2 separate regions of the Homo sapiens genome follow, and region 1 is linked to region 2. The links come from fine-mapping of genetic effects on gene expression. Tissue or cell type: whole blood. Region 2 holds a variant in brackets; the other region holds the start of a gene. All regions are shown on one strand. Distances are between the middles of the regions.

The links. PIP is the estimated chance that this variant, and not a neighbour inherited with it, causes the effect.
Region 1: CFDP1 starts here. The variant in region 2 is fine-mapped to the expression of CFDP1 in whole blood (TOPMed, PIP above 0.99).

What each region holds. Positions count from the first base shown.
Region 1 is chr16:75,429,335-75,436,992 of GRCh38, reverse strand. It overlaps CFDP1 (craniofacial development protein 1), which reads left to right and starts at 3,490. Exons shown (of 7, transcript NM_006324.3): 1 at 3,490-3,704. The coding sequence starts at 3,641. LOC124903723 (tigger transposable element-derived protein 1-like) reads right to left here and starts at 1,789. Exons shown (of 1, transcript XM_047435019.1): 1 at 773-1,789. The coding sequence starts at 1,691. The coding sequence ends at 894. RefSeq lists enhancers at 2,884-3,451, 2,995-3,504 and silencers at 3,815-4,054, 5,311-5,510.
Region 2 is chr16:75,318,304-75,325,961 of GRCh38, reverse strand. The region is part of intron 5 of CFDP1 (craniofacial development protein 1); the gene reads left to right. Among named protein-coding and RNA genes, the nearest start is that of BCAR1, 71 kb to the right of the region's middle. RefSeq lists an enhancer at 6,160-6,329. The variant A/G (reference allele first, on the strand shown) is at 3,280.

The DNA.
Region 1 (7,658 bases), 110 kb before region 2:
CTGTGGATGATGGCTGCATTCCTGAATAGTCAATTCTTTGTATTCACAGTAGTTATGGCTATAAAGTTGTCGAGAACATTGAATTAGCAAAAACCGAACCATGGGTCCTGGGAGAAATACAGGGTTAGGTTCCTGTGAACCTCTGGTCAACACTTTTGTCAACTGATCGGTATGTAACTTTGTTTTATGTGTGTTTCTGTTCAAAGACACCTTATTTAATATGTATTTCTTAAAAATAATCTGCAGTATTTACAATAAAATTTCAATGACAGTAGTTTGGTGTAATGTACTCTAGTGTACTGAGATTGCACTACTTTTTTTTTTTGAGTCAGTCTTGCCCTTTTGTCTAGGCTGGAGTGCAATGGCATGGTCTTGGCTCACTGCCACCTCCGACCCCCAGGTTCAAACGATTTTCCTGTTTCAGCCTCCTGAGTAGCTGGGATTACAGGCGCCCACCACCACACCCAGCTAATTTTTCTATTTTTAGTAGAGACAGGGTTTCACCATGTTGGCCAGGATGGTCTTGAACTCCTGACCTTGTGATCCGCCCACCTCAGCCTCCCAAAGTGCTGGGATTACAAGTGTGAGCCACCGCGTCCAGCCTGTACAACCTTTTCATTGGCACACACAGAGTACACACATATAGTTCCCATATACAGTCAACAGTATAACATACTGTACAGTTCCCACAGTAAACACATACACTACTTTGCACACATACTGTATACCCTACAGTACAGCAATACAAATAAAGGGAAAAAGTTCAAAGATGGAGCATCCTAAGTTTTATAAAAATATCAACTAAAATCTTACGGTTGATGGAGCTGCACAATGTGGTTAAACCTCTCGACCTTGGCTTGCCCCACAGAAACCAGGGGAGGGGTGAGTGAAATTTATTCTGCAGAAGAGGAAGAGGGTGGCAGGTCAACCTCTGGCATTTCTACCTTAGGAGTCTGGCTCTTGACACTTGTTGAAGGAGTGGGCAATCTTCCCTCCCAAACTGGCTTGAGAAATTGCATTAGCCTTGCCTGCCTGGCTTTTCTGCCTGAAATCTTTAAGCATCTCGGTATAAGGGGCAAACGCAGTGGAGGCCAGCCATTTAAATTTGAGGCTTCGATCAAGCGTAGGGTCACACTCTTCCATGTCGCTAAAAATTTTTTCCAAGGCAGAACTCCATTCTGATATTTTGGCGCTGTGAGAGGGACAATTCTGGAAGTCTTGGGCCGACTTTCATGGCCATCAACTCCAATGCCTTCTTTTGCCATCTCATCCAGGTCTTCGTTGGTTGGTTCCACTGCCTTCTCTGCCAAAATGTACTCCACATCTCCTTCCTTCACGTCATCAAAGCCCTCTCCACTTACCTGCTGTGCCATATGCATTATGTCTCTGACAGTGTTCTTTATATTTTCTGTAACACCTTCAAACCCTTCAAAATTCTCCACGCAGTCTGGCCAAACATTTTCCCAACAGTTATTGGTAGTAGCCTGACCAATGCTCTCCCAGGCTGTACTGACATAATCAATAACGTTGCATGTAGTGACCGACTTCCAATAGTCCAGCATGGTGGTTTCCTTGTTGGTCCTGAGAGCCTCACAGGCCTTCATATAAAGCTCCCTTGTGTAGTGTGCCTTGAATGCTTTTATTATGCCCCGATTGAGGGGTTGGATGAGAGACTTAGTGTTTGGGGGCATAAAAAGAACTCCTATGTTGGCGTGTGCATTTTCGAGTTCTTTGCAGCAATGGATTGTAGCATTATCCAAAATTAACAAAACCTTGAAGGTGCCCGGCGCGGTGGCTCACGCCTGTAATCCCAACACTTTGGGAGGCCGAGGCAGGCGGATCATGAGGTCAGGAGATCAAGACCATCCTGGCTAACACGGTGAAACCCCGTCTCTACTGAAAATACAAAAAATTATCCAGGCGTGGTAGTGGACGCCTGTAGTCCCAGCTACTCGGGAGGCTGAGGCAGGAGAATGACGTGAACCCGGGAGGCGGAGCTTGCAGTGAGCCGAGATTGCGCCACTGCACTCCAGCCTGGGCGACAGAGCGAGACTCCGTTTCAAAACCAAACCAAAACAAAACAAACCCAAACAAACAAAAAACAAAACAAAACAAAACAAAAAACCCTTGAAGGCAAGGTTTCTGCCCTGGAGACAGTGTTCAGCTTCTGGGATGAAGCAGTTGTGGAACCAATCAGACATCATCCACACTTTTTTGTTCCACCTCCAATAGACTGGCAGATGGTTCACGTATTTCCCGTTAAGTGCTTGTGGATTTTGGGTTCTTTACACCATTAGGAGTTTGCACTTTAGTCGCTCTTGGCATTGGCGCACAATAACAAGGGTGCATGATCCTGGCATGATTTAAAGCCAGGGGCTTTGGAGGCCGTTTGCATTATATAGGTTCGTTTGCCAACATCCTTGTAAAATAAGCCAGTCTCATCCGCATTGAAAACCTGCTCTTTCACATAACCCTTTTCCTGTATAACACTTAGCAAGTATTTTTAAAATTCTTCCGCAGCCTCCTGATCTGCAGAGCTCGCCTCACCTGCAAGTTTAACATTTTTCACCCCGTATCGCCTTTTGAAACGCGCGAGCCGGCCAGCACTCGCCGAGAAGGGCTTAGCATTTCTTTGACTCTGGGTAACGTGACCACAGATATCTTTGGCTTTCAGCCTCACCACAATGCTGTCCACTATGTTTTTTTTAATCGATTGACATCTCATGAATCCACAAATTTAGCCGCTTTTCCATCTTTTCCATCTTTGTCATAGCTTCATCACGCACGATGGAGGTCACTTCAGCACTATCCGGAGCGGCCTCACGGACAGATCGGTGAATTTCCTTTTCCTTTTTCTTGATGTACCGGATTGTCGACTCGTTAACATTGAGCTCATGGCCAACAGCACTGTAACTCATGCCTGATTGGAGCTTATCCAACACGCGGACTTTCTCCGTAAGGCACATCACGGTCTTCTTTCGCTTAGGAACACTGGGCAGAGCTTAAGCACTACGCTTGGGGGCCATTTTAGAAAGCAAAACCACCCACAAAAAGCAGAAAAAAAAGTGTCAGTAAACAGACTGCGGAAAGGACTCTTTGTTTACAGCACAGGAGCTGCGACTAGAAGGCGGCGCTTCTCCCAGTTCAAACTTCAGCTGGGAACCTTACCTCCGCCAACTCCAAATTTTCACCCTCTGCGCATGCCCGGGAAGAACCCCAGACAGTACCGTGATGATTGATTTTAGGGTTACAAATACATTTTAGCAAGTAAGTGAATTTGGCATTACGAATTAATGATTAATGAAGGTCACCTGTATTTCCATAGATATGTAATTTTATTTAAGCAGGTTTATTATATTAAGGCGGCGAGGCAGCGCCGAAGACTACAAGTTCCAGCATGCACCGCGTCCGGGCGGGTTCGGGCTCCCAGCGAGGGCTTCAGGGACGCCAGCCCGGAGGCATCGGCCGGAAGTGTCGTAGGGCAACCACGTAGTACTCTCTGCGCATGTGCAAAGCGCTGTCGGGGGCCGCCCTAGCTGCCGTCGCCGCCGCCGGGGCTCTATGGTCTCTCCCTAGAGCTTTGCCGTTGGAGGCGGCTGCTGCGGTCTTGTGAGTTTGACCAGCGTCGAGCGGCAGCAACATGGAGGAATTCGACTCCGAAGACTTCTCTACGTCGGAGGAGGACGAGGACTACGTGCCGTCGGGTGAGCGATTCCGCCTGAGGCGAGAAGCGAATTGCCCCGCCCCACGCCTCACGTGAGGCGCGCTCTGCCCCCGCGGGCGTCTGCCCTGTGGCCCAGGTGGTCCAGGGGGGCTCCTGTTCTCGAGCGTCCGCTCCCTCAGGCCCCTCATCCTCGGCCGCTCCGGCCCGAGGCGTGTGCGCGTGGCGGTTCTGTGCTCCCCTCCCGTTGGGCAGCTCCGGCCGCCGCCCCCTCTTGCAGCGCGGGAACCGGCACATGGACACGGCCCCTTGTCGCTAGGGACGCTCGTCGGTCAGCCCCGAACGACACCGCTGCTTCAGAAGTCGGGGCGGCAGTCCGAGCCTTGGAGGTTTTTTTCAGCCCTGGCCCGAGAGAGCTGCTGGCCACCACCCCGTCCAAGATAGAGCTGTCCGCTCTCCGCCTGGTTGTTAGAAAGTTCTGATAGAAAGTTCCCCCTTTGATGCTTTTTGCCTCATTGTGACGTCCACCCATCCTCTCCTCTCAGAACTTTCTTTCCTTAGGGATCTCAACCCGAACGGGGTGAGAATGAATCTTACTGAAGAAATCTTTCTGTTCCCCCTTCTTGGTCTTCCCCAGACAAACCGTCTCGTTGAAAGTATCTTCACCCATTCACATCTTCAGTTGAAAGACTAGACAAACAAGAAACAAACAGACTAACAAAACACAACCCAGGAGTCGTCCCTATTCTCTTTGTTTTACTTTGTTCTGTTCTGTTTTATTTAAAGACAGGGTCTTGCTGTTGTCTAGGCTGGAGTGCAGTGATGCGATCTTGGCTCACTGCAACCTCAGACTCCTGGGCTCAAGCGATCCTCCCGTCTCAGCCTCTGGAGTAGCTGGGACTGCAGGTGCAGGCTGCCACGCCCGCTAATTTTTTAAATTTTTTTTTTTTTTTTTTTTTTTAGAAATGGCATCTTGCTATGTTGCCCAGGCTGGTCTCGAACTCGTGGGCTCAAGTGATCCTCCCACCTCAGCCACCCAAAGTGCTGGGATTACAGGCATGAGCCACCGCGCCCCGGCTAGTGAAGTATTTCTAAAAGGCACGTTGAAAACTAGCCATTCCATTCCTGGCGCGGTGGCTCATGCTTGTAATCCCAACACTTTGGGAGGCTGAGGTGGGTGGATCACAAGGTCTGGAGATCGAGACCATCCTGGACAACATGGTAAAACCCCGTCTGTACTAAAAACACAAAAATTAGCTGGGCATGGTGGCACGCGCCTGTAGTCCCAGCTCCTCAGGAGGCTGGAGCAGGAGAATCGCTTGAACTCGGGAGGTGGAGGTTGCAGTGAGCCGAGATCACACCACTGCACTCCAGCCTGGGTGACAGAGCGAGACTCCGTCTCAAAAAAAAAAAAAAAAAAGTTAGCCAGTCCCATCACCCTCATCCCTATTTTATTTAATATTCCTCAGGAGAAACTTCTTTCCACCTTTTGAATTTGGTATTATATTTCTGTTGTCTATTGATTTAACCCATGTATAGTAGGTATCATTTTTAGTAGCCCCTGACCTCCTTCCCCTCATCCCAAACACACACACAAACACTTCCACCTTCGGGGCCTCCCCAACTCCGTAGTCTGCCGTTGAACCTGTGTCCAGTTTTAGTTAGATCAGTATTCAGTGTTTTTTTTTCTTTCGAGACAGTGTCTCGCTCTGTGGCTCAGGCTGGAGTGCAGTGGCACAGTCTCTGCTTAATGCGGCCTCTGCCTTCCCGGTTCAAGCAGTTCTGCCTCAGCCTCCTAAGTAGGTGGGATTACAGGCGCCCGCCAGCACACCCGATCGATTTTCTTTTCTTTTCTTTTTTTTTTTTTTTTTTTTTTTGAGACAAGAGTTTTGCTCTGTCTCCCAGGCTGGAGTGCAGTAGCGGGATCTCGTCTCACTGCAAGCTCTGCCTCCCGGGTTCACGCCATTCTCTTGCCTCAGCCTCCTGAGTAGCTGGGACTACAGGTCCCCGCCAGCACACCCGAATGATTTTTTTGTATTTTTAGTAGAGACGAAGTTACACCATGTTGGCCAGGCTTGTTTCAAACTCCTGACCTCAAATGGTCTGCCCGCCTCGGCCTCCCTGAGTGCTGGGATTACAGGCGTGAGCCACCGTGCCAGGCCCAGTGTTTTTTTTTTCTAATGACAGTGTGAATAAACATCATGTTGACAGCTGAACCGTATGTTATACAGATTACTTTTCCTGCACTTCTTGTTTTCTCTGGTGCTAATAATTGCCATTTTTTGTTGCTACTTAGCTGTCTATGTACTTAACTGCTGTAAACCAAAAATAAAATTCTAAGGCGCCCCCAACCATCTGAATGGACTTCCTCCTTAGCCAGGGCTCTTTAACATTTAACCTGAGAGACTGTTTTGGGCCATGATGGGAAGTGGGGGCTGAACCTGCCTCATTGTATGTCTCTGACATTAACATCGATGCAGACTTTAAGTCTGATAATAAACATTTTGCAACCTATTCTCTCTGAAGCCTGTCTGCTAAAAGCTTCATCTGTATGATAAAACTGTGTTCTCAGCCGAGCAGTGGCTCGAGCCTATAATCCTATCACTTAGGGAGGCAGAGGCTGGTGGATCATTTGAGGTCAGGAGTTCAAGACCAGCCTGGCCAACGTGGTGTAACCCCATCTCTACTGAAAATATGAAAATTAGCCAAGTGTGGTGACGGGCGCCTGTAATCCTATCTACTGGGGAGGCTGAGGCACGAGATCTCTTGAACCCAAGAGGTGGGGGTTGCAGTGAGTGAAGATCATGCTTCTGCACTCCAGCCTGGGTAACAGAGCAAGACTCCATTTAAAAAAAAAAAGTGGCCAGGTGCGGTGGCTCACACCTTTAATCCCAGCACTTTGGGAGGCTGTGGTGGGCGGATTGCCTGAGGTCAGGAGTTGGAGACCAGTCTGGCCAACATAGTGAAACCCTGTCTGTACTAAAGATATAAAAAAATAGCTGGGTGTGGTGGCGTGTGCCTGTAATCCCAGCTACTCCGGAGGCTGGGGCAGGGGAATTGCTTGAACCAGGGGCGTGGGGTTGCAGTGAGCTGAGGTTGCGCCACTGCACTCCAGCCTGGGCAACAGAGTGAGACTCCATCTCGAAAAAACAAACAAACAAACAAAAAAAACCTCTGGTCTCCACAACCTCTATCTTAACCCAGACATTCCTTTCTGTTTAGGCAAACTCAACCTGTTGCCAACAAGAAAATTTTTAAATTTACCTGTAGCCTGGAAGCACTCCCACCCCGAGTTGTCCTGTCTTAATGGACCAAACCAGTATATTTCTCAAATGTATTTGATTGATGTCTCATGCCTCCCTAAAATATATAAAACCAAGCTGCACCCCAACCACCTTGGGCGCGTGCTCTCAGGACCTCTTGAGGGCTGCATCATGGGCTGTGGTTACTCATATGTGGCACAGAATAATTCTCTTCAAATACTTGACAAGAGTTTGACTCTTTTCGTCGACACTGCTAATTTGACTCTAAACTTTTAGAATTGTATAAATCATCTCCCAAAATATTTACATTCATTAGATTTTCACTTTAATCTTCTGAAACAGTCTTTGCCTTCTGGCCTCCACTTTGTCTTGGTTACCTTCTATGAGTACTCCAGTGTATTTACTTATTTATTTAGAGATAGAGTCTTGCTCTTGTCGCCCAGGCTGGAGTGCAGTAGCGTGATCTTGGCTCACTGCAACCTCCACCTCCCGGGTTTGAGCGATTCTCTTGCCTCAGCCTCCCAAGTAGCTTGGATACAGGTGCCCACCACCACACCCAGCTAATTTTTGTATTTTTAGTAGAGACGGGGTTTCACCATGTTGGCCAGGCTGATATTGAACTCCTGACCTCAGGTGATCCGCCCTCCTCAGCCTCCCAAACTGCTGGGATTACAGGCGTGAGCCACCACGCCTGGTCAGGAACATTCTTATGAGACCTTGAATGCCTAAAAGTA
Region 2 (7,658 bases):
CAGGCTCTCATGAGAGGTGCCTAAGCCAGCCTAGGACAATTTCCAGGCTATTGACAGCCATTCAAGAATGTCTGTTGCAATTAATAAATGGTTCCCTGTGCTTGCTCTGAAGTACTTAGTTCCCCTGTAGAAAACCTAGCTAGCTTGAGTAGCAACTAAGAGGTTAGCCAATGCAGAGTTGTTACTTTAATCAGTATCACTTCACTGGGATTTATAATGTATGACATTGATATGGTTTCCCAAGATCCATACATTCTTTCAACAAATATTTTTTGAGTGCCTACCAAGTGCCAGGCACCCTGCCGGGTGCTTAGGTTATATCAGTGAACAAAATAGACATTCGTTCCAGCCCTTGTGGAGTTTCCACTACAGCAGAGAAATAGACAGTAAAAGAATAAACATAACAAATAAATTATGGGATACATTAGAAAATGCTAAGTGTGATAGAGAAAAGACAATCAGAGGAAGGGAGGAGGACCAGGTATGTGGGATGAAGAGGAAGCTTGCAGTATTAAATAGGATGATCAGCATAAGCCTCATTGAGAAATGGAGATTTGACCAGACTTGAAAGAGGTCAGGAAGTTAGTCAAGGGGATAACTGGGCACAGTCGTTGGGCAGAAGGAATAGCTTGAGGCAAGGCCTCTAAGGTAGATGCATGCCTGAAGGGGACTATACAAGGGGCTGTGCTAGGAGAGGAAGTCTGGGAGGTAAGGACTGGACAGATGTTGTCCCCCACAACTAAGATGTGCAAGGCTATAGGCAGAGCAGACTAGGGCCCTCAAGGCTGTTGGGTATATAAAGCTGGAGTTAGAGTCTGGGCTGAAGGTAAGACATTTGGGGGTCATAGGCATACAAATAGTATTTAAGCCTTGGGACTGGATGCAGTCACCCAAAGAGTGGGTATAGATGGAGAAAAGTCCAAGGACTTTCCATGCTAGAAGACTCCCATATGCCATCAAAGAAGCTCAAATTAACAATCAGACAATTCCAAAGAGCAGGCCATTCTACAGGTAAGGGGACTGTTCTAAATTAAAGGAGACCAACGTTTCTTGGCTTGAAATTTCTCAAAATCAAAAGTTTGTGGGGAAAGAAACCGCCAAAATTTAAAATACACTTTGCTGCCAAAGATGACTTAGCCTCGAAAAAAGAACAAGCAACTTCTGAGTCCCAGCTCCACTAATCTTTCCTAGCAGCAGCAATTTTTTTTTTTTTTTTTTTAAGACAAAGTCTCACTCTGTAGCCCAGGCTGGAGTGCAATGGTGTGATCTCGACTCACTGCAACCTCCACCTCCCAGGTTCAAGTGATTCTCCTGCCTCAGACTCCCGAGTAGCTGAGATTACCAGGAGCCTGCCACCACTCCCGGCTAATTTTTGTATTTTTAGTAGAGACGGAGTTTCACCATGTTGGCCAGGCTGGTCTCAAACTCCTGACCTCAGGTGACCCACCTACCTCGACCTCCTAAAGTTCCGGGATTACAGGCATGAGCCACCGCGCCCAGCCAGCAACAACAATTTTTAAAATTTCTTTCTGGATTCTAGAGTGAGTTTTTTTCATAACACAAGAGGATAAGAGTGAGGACAACAGGAGGTATTGATGATCTGCTGTGCACCAGGCATTATGCTAAGTGCATTCACACACATCTCAGTGCCTGTTGCCTCGTTGTGGACTTCTCTATCCCAGCTCGTCCCCCTGGCAAATTCTTTCTCATCCTTCAACTCTCAGACACCTCCCCCACCCTCTCTATAGCTTTCCCCATCTCAGACTCTTATGCTCTACTGCACTTCCTGTGTAATGGTTTTCTCCTAATGTAATTGCTTGTTTGTGTATCTTTATCTTGTGAATAAATTAAATGAGGGTAAGAAATCTGTCTATCTCCAGTGGCCAAAAAAGAGTCTGGCACACTGAAGGCACTCAACGATAAGGGCTGAGTTGATGAATATCTCATTTAATCATTACCCTGCAAGGTAGTTCTTATTATCTTCATTTTACTAATTGGTTACTTACTTGAGACTCAGAGAAATTAACTTGCCCAGAGTAAAAATAAATACAGTCACACACCACTCGTGTGTTCACAGTGATGCTGGTGTAAACAAACCTACCATGCTGCCAGTCATATAAAAGAGAATAAACAGCTATGTTACTGTTTTATGTATGTATAGTATACTTTTTTTTTTTTTTTTGAGACAGAGCTTCGCTCTTGTTGCCCAGGCTGGAGTGCAATGGCACGATCTCGGCTCACTGCAACCTCTACCTCCTGGATTCAAGCAGTTCTCCTGCCTCAGCCTCTGGAGTAGCTGGGATTACAGGCACGCTCCACCAGGCCCGGCAAATTTGTATTTTCAGTAGAGATCGGGTTTCACCATGTTAGTCAGGCTGGTCTTGAACTCCTGGCCTCAGGTGATCCACCTGCCTCGGCCTTCACAAGTGCTGGGATTACAGGCGTGAGCCACTGTACCCAGCCCTATAGTATACTTTAAATTGTTATTTTAGAGTGTATTCCTTCTACTTGTTAAAAAAAAAAAAAAAGTTAAGTAAAACAGCCTCAGGCAGGTCCTTCAGGAAGGATTCCATAAGAAAGCATTGTTGTCATAGGAGATGGCAGCTCCAGACACGTTGCTCTTGAAGACTTTCCAATGGGACAAAATAAGGAAGTCAAAGACAGTGATATTGATGATCCTGACCCTGTGTAGGCCTGGACTAATGTGTGTGTTTGTCTTAGTTTTTTTTTTTTTAACGTTAAAAAGTAAAAACAGTGAAAACATTTTAAAATAGAAAAAAACCTTACAGAAACAGGGTATAAAGAAAGTTTTTCTACAGCTGTGCTATGTTTTAAGCTAAGCATTACTAAAAAACAGTCAAAAAGTTTTAAAAGATTAAAAAGTTTATAAAGTTACAGTAAGCTAAGGTTAAATTTTTATTGAAGAAAAAAAAATTTTCTAAATAAATGTATTGTAGCCTAAGTGTACAGTGGTTATAAAATCCACAGTAGTGTGCAGTAATGTCCTTGGCCGTCACATTCACTCACCACTCACTCACTGACTCACCCAGAGCAACTTCCAGTCCTGCGGGTTCCACCATTCATGGTAAACTTCCTATACAGCTGTACCTTTTTTTATCTTTTATACACAGGTTAAGTATCCCTTACCCAAAATGCATGGGACCAGAAGTGTTTCCGATTTGGGATTTTTTTTTTTTTTAATATTTGTATTCTACTTAGTGGTTGAGCACCCCAAATCTGGAAATTCAAAATTCGAAATGCTCCTTTGAGTGTCATGTC[A/G]GTGCTCAAAATATTTTGGATTTTGGAACATTTTAGATTTCAGATTTTTGGGTTTAGGATGCTCAACTGTACCATATTTTTACTGTACCTTTTCTAGGTCTAGATGTGTTTAGACATAGATGCTTACCATTCTGTTACAGTTGCCTACAGTACTTAGTACAGTAACATGCTATACAGATTTGTAGCCTAGGAGCAATAAACTTTACCACACAATGTAAGCCTGTAGTAGGCTATACTATCTAGGTTTGTGTAAGTACACTCTGTGATGTTGGGCACAACAATGAAATCACCTAACACATTTCTCAGAACATAAGCAACACATGACTATAAATAAAAATTTATTAAGTGGGAGGGACAGGTTTCTACACTGACTGCAAAGCCACTGTACCCAAGTGCTTTAAAAACACAGATCCGAAATAGTGTTGGTGATATCTGGGACTTCACTTTACAAGCAATGCCCAGATATTCTAATATTCCTGTGTAAAGACTAGATTTCTGATTCTTCTTACAAAATGTATGCATGACCATCATGTAGAAAACAAATTAGGAAAGTTTAATAGGCTGGGCGCGGTGGCTCACGCCTGTAACCCCAGCACTTTGGGAGGCCGAGGCGGGTGGATCACAAGGTCAGGAGATCGAGACCATCCTGGCTAACACGGTGAAACCCCGTCTCTACTAAAATTACAGAAAAATTAGCCGGGTATGGTGGCGGGCGCCTGTAGTCCCAGCTACTCGGGAGGCTGAGGCAGGAGAATGGCATGAACCTGGGAAGTGGAGCTTGCCGTGAGCCAAGATCGCACGACTGCACTCCAGCCTGGGCGACAAAGCAAGACTTGGTCTCGAAAAAGAAAAAGAAAACAAATTAGGAAAGTTTAAATGTGTTTCCTATAGGAGGCTGTGATAGATACCAACTGAGAGATGTGTTGTTTCTTCTGGATGCTTATATATAATCTTAAATTTATGGTTTAAAGCAGGGGTGTCCAAGGGAGAGAATACAGTCATGAGTTCTTAGTTTCTGTTTCTGGTTGGGCCCATAAAGCCCCTTCCTCACCCCTCTTTTCCGCTTATCACTAGAGGCAGAAACTGAAAAACATGGCTTCAGGCTGGTAAAAGCCCAAAACAAAACAAAACAATAACAGAATAAGGCAGGTTGGACAAGCTTGGTTTAAAGTATTACCTGAGAGATAGGTAAATCTGTTGAGGCAGAAAGTAGATTAGTAGTTGCCAAGAGCTGGTGAGGGGAATGAAGAGTAACTGCTACTGGATATAAGGGGCTTTTTGGCAGGAGTGGCAATTTTCTAAAATGAGATTGTGGTAATGGATATACTAAAAACCACTGAGTTGTACCATTTTAAATAGGTGAAATCTTTAGAATGTGGATTACATCTCAGTAAAGCTATTATAAAAAGTATTAGCCAGGCTGGGCACTGTGGCTCACGCCTGTAATTCCAGCACTTTGGAATGCCGAGGTAGGAGGATCCCTTGAGCCCAGGAGTTCAGGATCAGGCTGAACAACATAGTGAGATCTTGTCTTGTAAAAATAATAATAATAATTTATTAAAATATTAAAGTATTAGCTGTTAGCTGAGCAAGGCATGATGGCGTGTGCCTGTGACTCCCAGCTACTCAGGAAGCTGAGGCAGGAGGTTCACTTGAGCCCAGGAGTTCAAAACCAGCAAGATCCCATCTCTTAAAAAAAAAATACTAGCTGAGAATAAGAAATAGTAAGTCATCAGATTTTCCAGCATTCTTCCAGAGTACAAGTACATTTAGTAGCTTATATTTGGGTTCTTGTTTCTCTTCATTCTTAGAGGGAAACTATTCCTTGGTGTGACTCAGGTCATGTTTTTGGATTTTGTTCTTTTATTTGCATGAGTCCCCCTCATTTCAGTTGTTTAATTCACATGAGACCATCAATGTCCCATATTCTGAGCCCCTTTCCTTCATCTGAACAGTGAGAACAATGAACACACTCATGCAATCCTTGCAGAGTCACCAGCTGAGCCTCACGGTGACTGGAAGGCCATAGCAAAGCCACTCGTCCCCCAGGAGAGGGTGTCAATCACACACTCTCACAGTCTGGGGTGAGGAGCCCTGGGTCAGAGGCCTTGCTCTCACAGCAGGGAGATCGTGATGCCAAGTTTCCCAAAGCAAATGGCTAATACACAGGGAAAAATCAAAGAATGGAAGGGTCTGCCCTACTTTAGTTGATTGCACTTGATTTTTTTCTTTTTTTTTTAACTAGTTTTCCTTCAAACAATCTGTTGGCAGAGCAGCCAACTTTGTTTCAGCAGACCTTCTTCGTTTGCCAGCCAGTTAACGCTAAAGCATCTTTTTCAAACTTTTTGGCCTTCAGTCATAGTTACACGTTTTACATTATGACCCAGTGTGAGTCATGGTCACATAAAAGCGCATGCTCCGAGGGGGTCTCAGAATGCAAAGAAACTGGACTTGTTTAAGGGTTCATACATCTCCTAGCAGTAGGGATGGGATGAACCTTGGAGGACAAACTACATTTCTGAATGAAAAGGCTGTTTTAGCAACCCCTGGCTAGCAGATTAAGGAAAGAAACTCTACTTACCGTTTTCTCTTGCTCTAGAGATGGAGGATGGGAATTCTTTTTGATGGTCAGTGATACCGTGGGTAAAAATCTTCCATTTGTTAAAGAGAAACAATGTTGTGGTTTACAGATGGCTCAGCTGTGGTTAGCCTCTATGAAAACCATTTCCTGCATGCAGTAAAAAGAAAGTTTTCTGCTTTCAGTATCAAACTACGTGGAAACGAATATTTCTTTGTTGAAATCCATTGTATTGCCTTAGCAAAGTGACACTTAGGGCTCATGCTTAAGTAACCCCATTCTTGTGATCACCCTTGTATAGATGATTGCTTCCTAAGGGCTCTTTAAATCCTGGGTTGTGAGGGGTGGCACCACAGGGGGAACGCTGATGATGCCATATCCCAGCTTTGTGAGGAGAAGTGGAAGCTGCCTCTGGAGGAAGAGGGGCAGGTTGGGATCTGAGCCTCATTAAGTTTTCCCATTGATATTAGTAGAATTGTGGCCTCTAGGAGGCCAGAGCTGCTACCCTGGCAACTGAGTGAGCAAACGATGTTGCGGATGCCACTGAGAAAGTAGATTTGGGAGTCAGGACCCTAGCAGGAGCGCTAAGTGCTGAAAAATGACCTTCACCACTTCAGTCTCGTGTAATGCAACGACCATAAAGCACGTTCCCCCCCAACCCCAGATGTAACTTTGAGGTGTCAAGGATCACAGCTGTGTCCAATGTCTATCTCCTCCTCATTTGGAATTTTGCATGCTTATTTAGTAGCAGTTAGAAGTTTGGGGCTGGGCGTGGTGGCTCACACCTGTAATCCCAGCACTTTGGGAGGCCGAGGTAGGTGGATTATAAGGTCAAGAGATCAAGACCATCCTGGCCAACATGGTGAAACCCCATCTCTACTAAAAATACAAAAATTAGCTGGGCATGGTGGCATGTGCCTGTAATCCCAGCTACTCAGGAGTCTGAGGCTGGAGAATCACTTGAACCCGGGAGGCAGAGGTTGCAGTGAGCCGAGATCGCTCCACTGCACTCCAGTCTGGCAACAGAAACTTCATCTCAAAAAAATAAATAAATAAAGTAAGTTTGGTATTGAGAGGGAGTAATTTTGCAAAATGTGTTCGGCTCCTATGAGTTTCATTTAAAGCTATGTGCTTAATGTGCCTTCTCATTTCTAGAAAGGGGCAGGCATGACTTGTTTTAAGAGAGGTGTCTATGATGTAAGGAATTATTTCTGATTTGACTGAGGACACCCCTGTATCCCAAAACTTTAGCCTAGTCTCAACCTGAGAGGTGCCCAAGAATTTAAAATTTATGTTAATATCCTCAGATTTTTTTATGAAGAGACAGAGACATGCATCCCTGGGAGAAAAAAGAAAGCTGAAAGTCTAAAAGCAGGATGCAGATATTTAAGAAAGCATGCCGGCCGGGCGCAGTGGCTCACGCCTGTAATCCCAGCACTTTGGGAGGCCAAGGCGGGCGGATCACAAGGTCAGGAGATCGAGACCATCCTGGCTAACACGGTGAAACCCAGTCTCTACTAAAAATACAAAAATTAGCTAGGCATGGCAGCATGCACCTGTAGTCCCAGCTGCTGGGGAGGCTGAGGCAGGAGAATGGCGTGAACCCAGGAGGCGGAGGTTGCAGTGAGCCGAGACTGTGCCACTGCACTCCAGCCTGGGCGACAGAGTGAGACTTCATCTCAAAAAAAAAAAAAAAGAAAGAAAGAAAGCATGCCAACTCCCTAATCAACAGTCAGCCAAACAACACACCACTGAGGCATATTGATCTTCTGCCCAGTGCTTTGTCCTGTTGACTTAGTTG